2 separate regions of the Homo sapiens genome follow, and region 2 is linked to region 1. Evidence: fine-mapped expression QTL. A gene starts in region 1. The other region holds a variant in brackets. All regions are shown on one strand. Distances are between the middles of the regions.

Region 1 (4,387 bases):
ATATCCCACACCCGTTCCATGCTCCCACCTCAGCCTCAGCCATAGGCCACTCACCCAAGCTTGACTAAACGTCTGAAGACTTCTCACCAGGAGGTAGCGGCAGGTCTGGCACCCAGGGATGCCCACCACTTTTACTGTGTCCTCTTCCTCAGGACACGTAAGGTTTTTGTCCACCATATCTGGCACTGAGATAGACTCAACAGCCCCATCTTTCTTGGAGGCATCTTCACTTCCAGAGCCCCACTCCTCCTCTTCCTCCAGCTCCCTGCAAGGGGTCTCCTCCATCTCCTGCTCTGGTGTCTCCTCATCCTCAGGCAGCGTCTTAGCACCCAAAGGGGTCTCAAAGGTGGAAGTCTCAGACCCTGGCAGGGAGGATAGCTAAGTGTCCTTCCTTCACATCTCCCCTTGTTCCTCCCCAGAACCACAGACAGCTCACACCTTGCCCTGGGCATCAGAGTGCTCAACTCTGCCTGGGAAGGGGAACCTGGAACCCAGTCTCTATGAGGGGAACCCAAGCTGCCTGACAAGGTCAAGGTGGTTAAGAGCATGGACTTAGAGTCGGGCAGTCATGGGCTTGGGTACTGGTTCCATCATCCACCAGCTGTATTTCTGTGAAATGGGTATACAATACCACCTACTTCATGGCGATGCTAAGAGAGTTAAAGGAGAGAAGGCACTCAGTAAGCTCAAAGTAAGCATAATGGAGAAAGGACAAAATTGGGAATGTCACAGTAGAACCAAGACCACAGACATAACAGACGCCTTGAGAAATCCTTTCAACTCCTGGCCATAGAGTCCCCATCCCTTTAAGCACACAGAAATTCAGAAATAGAAGACGATCAAAGAAGGGGGTGGGTGTGTAACTCTGACCCCATCTACCATAGAAAGGGAAAAAACAGAGAAAGAAAGACTGAAGGCAAAAAACACTTACTTAGATGAAGAGCAGAAACTGCCCCAAATAGAAGAGCCAGAAGTAAGGGGAGTTTCATCTTGGCTTTATCCTGCAACGGAGAACACAGTTTGTCATTGACACACACAGACACACATGCACACACATCACAATCACACCATTAGGGGACCGTGGGAGTGAGGTGGAGAAAAAGAAGGCCTGAATAGAAATCAGGATGGGCCAGAAAAGCTCATGCCAAGCCCAGCTCCTGATGCTCCAGGATCCAGGACGCAAGGACCTCTTTCTAAACAGAACGCAGCAAACCCTGAGGGGTGGCTGAGGCTGGCTTTCCTTCAGGCCCGGAAGTAAAGAAGGGACTATTACGCTTATTTGTTTGTACTTAATGGGTCCCTCAGAGTCTATGACATAAAAAAGGCGGGAGAAGCAATGATTATTGGCTTTCCTAGGAACACATAGGACTTAGAAGGTATGTCCCCTCCTCAGAGTTCAAGAAGCCACCCACACCCTCCTCCATGTCTCCACCATCTCCTTTCCCCAGCCAAGGAGCACTTTCACATCCCGCAGAAGGAATGTGCAAGGCAGAGGATGAAGGCTGCCCCTGCTGACATCCTCATAACCTGAAAGCCACAGGTAGACGCCTGCCAGCCCTCCAGAAACTGTCAGCCACAGCCAGGGACCTCCTGGGAGAATAAACTGTCACCAGCTCCACCACAGCAGAGAAAGCACTCACCCACCCAGAGACCTTCCTGGGTCTTTAGATCTTCCCAAAGCCCAGGTCCTTCTTTGCTTCCTCTCACAAAGACTTCTTATATAGAGGCCTTGGAGGAACTTCCCCCAGGGAGAGAGAGTTTGCCTCTGTCAGAGGGAGATAGCAAGGCTGATAAGGACCATTTCATCACTTCCCTGGGGAGCCCACTCATTCATTCAGTGAAGATTTCTCTCCCGATACCCACTTCAGGAACCCAGGGGCCATCTGGAACAGCTCTGGGCAATGGTTCTTATCCTGGGCTACACTTCAGAATCGCCTTGGGTGCTTTTCCAAAATACATATCTCCCCTGTTTTACTGGTGTTTTGAACTGCCACAAACATTTTGAGAACAAATCTGTCCATACCTATTAAAATAAAAAAATGCACATTTGATCAGTTTCACTCTTTTGAGACTATCCTTTAGGCATAAATGCGCCTATAAGTAATAAAACTTTTACAGAGTTATGTTATTCCTTGACTATTTGTAGAAATGAAAACAATATTGATATCCATCAATCGGACACTGAGTAAAATGTGTCCTCTCTATTCTACAGAATGTTATATGGCTATGAAAAGAAGAGCTGGACCTGTATCTATAAACCTGAAGAGATGTTTCTGTGACATGAAGTGAAAAAAGGCAAGATACTGAGGAAAGTATTTAGTATGTGAATAGTTTTACAAGGAAAAAAAAAACCCCCGCATAGGTGCTTATCTGTGAGCATCCTTATGTGACCATTGATGGAGGGAATGCTAAAAGGAATCACACCAAATAGTTGACCTTGTTGCCTCCAGAAGCAGGGGAGGAGAGGGAAGAAAGCAGGAGACAGATTGTTGTTTATCTTCTTTTTATAACTTTGCATTTCTTCAGTGGTTATGGTAAATGCGTGCTGAATCTGTAATTTTGAGGCTGCCTTATTAAAGATTTTTAAAAATATGCAGATGCCCTGCCCAGAAACTTCTGCTTGGCTAATAGGTCTAGCGTGAAGGTCAGATGTCTGCATTTTTTTAAAAGCTTCCCAGCTGACTGTGATGGAAGATGGGTCTAGGAGTCACTGTCCTGAGGATCTTCAAGTACAGGAAATGTTCACGTATGTCTAACTTCTTTCCTTCTGAATCAGACCACTCAGTTGGCCAACCTACCAGCCTTCATTATGGTAACATTTACTGAACATTTTTAAATGCCATGCATGGCAAGTGGCTGGATGCAGTGGCTCATGCCTGTGATCCCAGCACTTTGGGAGGCTGAGGTGGGTGGATCTTTTGAGGTCAGGAGGTTGAGACCAGCCTGGTCAACATTGCAAAGCCTTGTCTCTACTAAAAATACAAAAATTAGTCAGGCATAGGGGTGGCTGCCTGTAATCCCAGCTACTTGGGAGTCTGAGGCAGGAGAATCACTTGAACCCAGGAAGTAGAGGTTGCAGTGAGCTGAGATTGCACCACTGCACTCCAGCTTGGGCGAGAGAGTGAGACTCCGTTTCAATCAATCATCAATCAACAAAATACTGTTCATGGCAAGTATTACCTCATTTAACCTGATTTTAAAAACCTAGTGAGGTAGGTGGTTGATACCCCATTTTCCAAGTGAGACAACCCAGGCTCTGTGTGGCTCCTGATCTCCCCGCAACACTGCCCTTATTGGATCGATGCCCTGTATACACCCTCTTGTAGCTCCAGGGGCTTGTCCTTATCAGTTAGTCATTTTACTTTTCTTGTGAGATTACTTGGTTAATGGATTAACATCTGTCTTCCTTCGTGATGGTGAAGGCTGCATCTCTTTACTCACCATTGTATCCTTGGTGCTTAGTACAGTGCCCGGCACATAGTAGGTACTTAATAAATATACATTGAAGTAATTAATGGTTAAGTAACGTACTCACGTAAACAACAGGGTTAGAATTCAAATCCAGTTCTTTCTGGCACCAAACTTCTCTCCCCTCCCATATGCCTGCTTGTGTGTCAAAAATGATGCTATCCAGGTGGAGATAAAATCAGAGTGAAGCATAGATCCTGTATTCAATTAGCTTACAACCTAATTTGTAAGATGAGTAAATTGAGGTCAAACAAAAGGAGAAGGGTTAAGACCAAGCTAGGAAACATCCTCTGCTAATTCAGAAGGAAGTCCATGCATAGTAAAACAGAGCAGAAAAGGCTCCATGAACCAAGGAGCTGATTCCTACCTGGATGGAAAGATGCAATTAGAAGGGAAGGAAACAGGCATTTCAAGTAGAAGGAACAGCTTGAGCAAAGGTGTGGAGGTTGGACAGCCTTGGTATATGCACAGGACACTGTAATTTCCTTCATAACTAAAGTTAACAGTACACACATTGGGAAGGAATGAGAAAAACGAGGAACGATGCATTTCATCTTGAGCCGAGGATGGAGATAACCCTCCCCTGTCTCCATTGATTTAAAAAGACAGAAGCAGGAATCAAAGGAATACTCAACAAGAGCCTAGTCAGGAGCTTTGAGCTGGGCTCTGCGCACTCCCATCTGCAAGCCCTCCCCACAGGACCTCTTTGGCTGTTGGACAGAGGATTACTGTCATAAGGTGATGAGAGGGAGCCCATTCTTGGAAACCAGTTGACTGTTCAGGGACCCTCACTCCTAGGGAAGTCTCTCTTTTAGGTCATACAATCCAGGATCTGAAATCCACAGCTTAGCAACCCTGAAAATTTCATCAACATTCACTGGAAGTATACAGCAGTGTCTGAGAGGGTGGCTTCTGGAGT
Region 2 (4,387 bases), 48 kb after region 1:
CATAATACTTCCCCACATCCCAAACACCACTCACTTGCCCTCTCCTAGTGTGAACAGAACCCAGCCCAGGCCTGGAACTGCTGTCTCCATTTTGAGAGGCTGAATCTTGTAAGGACTGGGGGTCCTGACTCCCTAAGTGGAACAGTGTCCTCCCTGGGGGAAAACTTATGAAGATCATAAGAGTCCTAGACACAAACGGCCCAAGCTTCCACAAAATGCACATTATCCCCTTTCCTCTCATTTAAAACACAGATGTGGCCGAGCGCAGTGGCTCACACCTATAATACCAGCACTTTGGGAGGCCGAGGCTAGCAGATCACTTGAGGTCAGGATTTCAAGACAAGCCTGGCCAACACTGTGAAACCCTGTCTCTACTAAAATTGCAAAAATCAGCTGGGTGTGGTGGTGTACACCTGTAATCCCAGCTACTCGGGAGGCTGAGGCAGGAGAATCACTTGAACCCAGGAGGCGGAGATTGCAGTGAACTGAGACCGCGCCACTGCACTCCAGCCTGGGCGACAGAGCAAGACTCTGCCAAAAAAAAAAAAAATTAAATTCAAAATAAAATAAAAGAAAACACAGATGTGCCTATGGAGGAAAGGGCACTAATATGAACTCAAGACCCTGCTGGCTCCTCCCTATACCCCTCCCGGAGCCTCAGTTTCCATTCTTCATAGCTGAACATGGGCTGTGGGATGCTGATTCCTGTTGGAAAGAAAGGGAAGGGACAGAATAATCACTCCTATTTACACGGCTCTCTAGAGTTTGCAAAGCAAAGCACTTCCACATCCCCTCCCTGAGCCCCCCCCAACTCCATTGCCACCCCCACGCTCCAGCCCCCGCAAGCCTGAAGTCATGTAGGAAGCGTCCTTTAGGCTGGGCTTGGCCTTGCTTTTCGTTTGGTTTCGGAGTCCCCGGTGAGAAGCAGATACCTCCAAGGAGTAACTAGTCAGGTATCATCCCACACCTGGTAAGTATTTGGGATCAGGGGAAGTGATACCTAAGAGGCAGCACAGAGAAATTAAGTGATTAGGCACACGCCTAGCGCCAGAGCAGGTGAGTGGCGCAGGGATGGGGAGTGATACCCAGACTCCATGTTGCAGTCAGAGGCCCAAGGCTTTTGGAAGAGCAGACCCAGGTTAATTATGTGCAATCTCATAGTGCCATTAGTTGACAAGTCAGAGACAGAGCCTTTCTTTCTTCTACCAAAGCCAGGCAGCTAGGGCAGCCAGAACACCTGGGCTGCAGCAAGAAGGAAGCCTTCCTGTATGCTCCACCCTCAACCGTGGAGCAGCTGGACAGGCCTCCCTACACTGCAGCTTGGGCTGGTTGTGGCTGGACTTGTCTAACCCTCTAACTTGTGCACCTCAAAGTCAGGGCTCCTCAATATTTTCTCTACCCCTGACAGGGTCCACCATTAAGCCATATTAAGGGACAAAGGAGAGACCTGAAGTCAAATCTGAAAATTTCAGATAAAGCAAGCCACCCAACAAAGAGGTCCAAAGTACATGATGGGATTGGAGAAATGCTGACAAGCGAAACTCGGAGAAGCCAAGCTGGCAGATTGATCTGGAAAGGTCAACAGGAACGAACGGCTATAATGAGGCTCAGTCTGTACATCACCAAGCCAATGGATTGGGTCCAGCGAGGATGCAAGATGTATTGAGTGTGGTGTGCCTCTTCTGCACACACCTGCGGCTCCCTGGGATTCGGGATGGGGAGGGACTGAGAGCTGTGACAAACCAGGTCAGGCCACAGACTCTGGATTTAGGACAATCAAAAAGTACACATACCTGGGGGAAGTGTCCAGGGAGGCTGGAAACTGACCCTGAGGCAAGACTGGAGGTGTCTAGGCCCACTGCTGCGGGCACTGGCTTGACAGTGCTTTTGAGAAAAACACAAAGTCTACACTGTTTGTCGTTTGTTTTTGTTTTTGTTTTGAGAGGTAGTCTGGCTCTGTTGCCAAGAGGCCAGAGTGCAGTGGCCCAATTTCAGCTCGCTGCAACCTCCGCCTCCTGGGTTCATGTGATTCTCCTGCCTCAGCCTCCCGAATAGCTGGGATTACAGGCATGCACCACCACGCCTGGCTAATTTTTGTATTTTGTAGAGACGAGGTTTCACCATGTTGGCCAGGCTAGTCTCAAACTCATGACCTCAAGTGATCCGCCACCTTGGCCTCCCAAAGTGCTGGGATTACAGGCGTGAGCCACCACACTCGTCCCACACTGTTTTTTGTCCTGGCCCTGACTCACTTGTCCTGATTTCTCAAGAGAGGGACTTTCAGAAAATGAAAAAAAAGAGAACTTTACTAAAGATCTTCAGTATTGGTCAGAAGAGAACCCATCCTCTCTCAGCAAGGATGGGAGACGGCGAAGAGATACGCTTCATGGGAGAGGGACAGCAGAGCATCAGCAGGAAGGGGAGCGACAATGTCCCCAAGACCACAGACACCTGTCAGGTGTGTTTGGGAGGGCCTGGCCCCCACCAAGTCTACAGAGTTGAGGCTTGCTGGTCGAAGTCATGATCTTTGTCCAAGCCTTGGATGGTCACCCTTTCTCCATAAACCTCCGTCCCACACTGAAACACTCCCTGTGTGTCTTTGAACAAGTCCTTCCTCCTCTGAGCCCCATCTCAACCAAAAAAGAGAAATGAACTTGCACTGAGCTCCCTCCCAGGGCTCCATGAACATCTCATGAGATTCGAACCCCTAGCTCTGGGCTATCACAGCCCCATC[C/T]TTTATGCATTCCATCGTCATCGTAGGATGTAAGCCCGAGAGCCCTGGCACTAAATGAGAGCTACTCACTGAGAACAGCTTGGTGCTGAGACCCTGGGGCATGCAGAGGGCCAGGAAGTGGCCAAGGCAGGGCAGAGCCACTTGTTTTCCCTGAGATGGTCTGCCTGGGCCCTAGCATTTCCATGACTGTCGTATCAATGCTGAGATCCCAGAGGTCCTGGGAGGAGCCATTGTTCTCCCTTTACTAAAGTGACCTGAAACCTTGGACAGGCTGCCAGTGCTCCCTGGCCTTTTAATTTTTTTTTAATTGTTATTATTATTATTTTTTTTTTGAGATGGAGTCTCGCTGTCTCCCAGGCTGGAGTGCAGTGGTGCGATCTCAGCTCACTGCACCCTCTGCCCCCCGGGTTCAAGACATTCTCATGCCTCAGCCTCCCGAGTAGCTGGAATTACAGATGTGAGCCACCATGCCCAGTTAATTTTTGTATCGGGTTTCACCATATTGGCCAGGCTGGTCTCAAACTCCCAATCACAGGTGATCCACCCACCTCAGCCTCCAAAAGTGCTGGGATTACAGGAGTGAGCCACCGCACACAGCCTATTCATTCAGTTTTGAGACAGGATCTCGCTTTGTCTCCTAGGTTGGAGTACAGTGGCACAATCATGGCGCACTGCAGCGTCCACCTCCTAGGCTCAAGCAATCCTTACCCCAGCCTCTTGAGTAGCTGAGACTGCAGATGCATACCACCACACCCAGCTAATTTTTAAAAGCTTTTTACAGGGATGGAGTCTTGCTATGTTGCTCAGGCTGGTCTCAAACTCCTGAGCTCTACCGATTTTCCCCCATCAGCCTCTCAAAGCCCTGGGATTACAAGTGTGAGCCACCACACCCAGCCTTCCTCAGCCTTTCTGCTCCTCACTGCCCTGTAGCAGAGTCCACTGGGTCCTCAGTGCCCAGCTGAGCTTGTGCAGGAAGCCCCAGCTCTGGGTCTTACTGCCTCACCCCTAACCAACTCCTACCATACTTCAGGGCATGGCTCAAATGTCACTTCCCAAAGGACATTGTTCCTGATCACCAGACTGGCACAAGTACTCTCCCGTGGCCCATACTTCTTCATCATAGAATTTATCCCTGCTTATAATTACATGTTTGTGTTTGGCTTACTTGATTTCTGAGCTTTCCCCCCATCATGCACGTACATAAACACACACATACACATAGACACTGTTAAAACAAATGAAAACCGAGGTCAGGCCTGCAGATCCCTTAAGCAAACAAAACTAGTCAGGCTTCATAAGTGACCTAAACCTTGCTTAACTTGAAAACATAAGTGGCCTGGGCCTATCTTCCACTTCCACACTAGAAGGTTTTCAGGCTCACACCTGTAATCCCAGCCCTTTGGGAGGCCAAAGCAGGAGAATTGATTGAGCCCAGGAGTTTGAGACAAACCTGAGCAACATAGAAAGACCCCCCCTCTACAAAAAATAAAAGATAAAAAATAATTAGCTGAGCATGGTGGCTCACACCTGTAGTCTCAGTTACTGGGAAGGCTGAGGCAGGAGGGTCCCTTGAGCCCAGGAGTTGGAGGCTGCAGTGAGCTATGGTTGTGCCATTGCACTCCAGCCTTGATGACAGAGTGAGAATCTGTCTCT

Direction of the effects. Alleles are on the strand shown, and positions count from the first base shown. SD is a standard deviation of normalised expression in the study named.
With allele T in place of C in region 2, the expression in thyroid of the gene that starts at base 1,695 in region 1 is higher (small effect, 0.20 SD a copy in GTEx).

What was found. PIP is the estimated chance that this variant, and not a neighbour inherited with it, causes the effect.
Region 2: its variant is the best candidate, but not a certain one, in a credible set for the expression of PRG2 in thyroid (GTEx, PIP 0.51).

The regions. Positions count from the first base shown.
Region 1 is chr11:57,388,956-57,393,342 of GRCh38, forward strand. It overlaps PRG2 (proteoglycan 2, pro eosinophil major basic protein), which reads right to left and starts at 1,695. Exons shown (of 6, transcript NM_002728.6): 1 at 1,641-1,695; 2 at 932-1,001; 3 at 55-362. The coding sequence starts at 989.
Region 2 is chr11:57,437,240-57,441,626 of GRCh38, forward strand. No RefSeq gene overlaps it. Among named protein-coding and RNA genes, the nearest start is that of SLC43A3, 12 kb to the left of the region's middle. The variant C/T (reference allele first, on the strand shown) is at 2,735.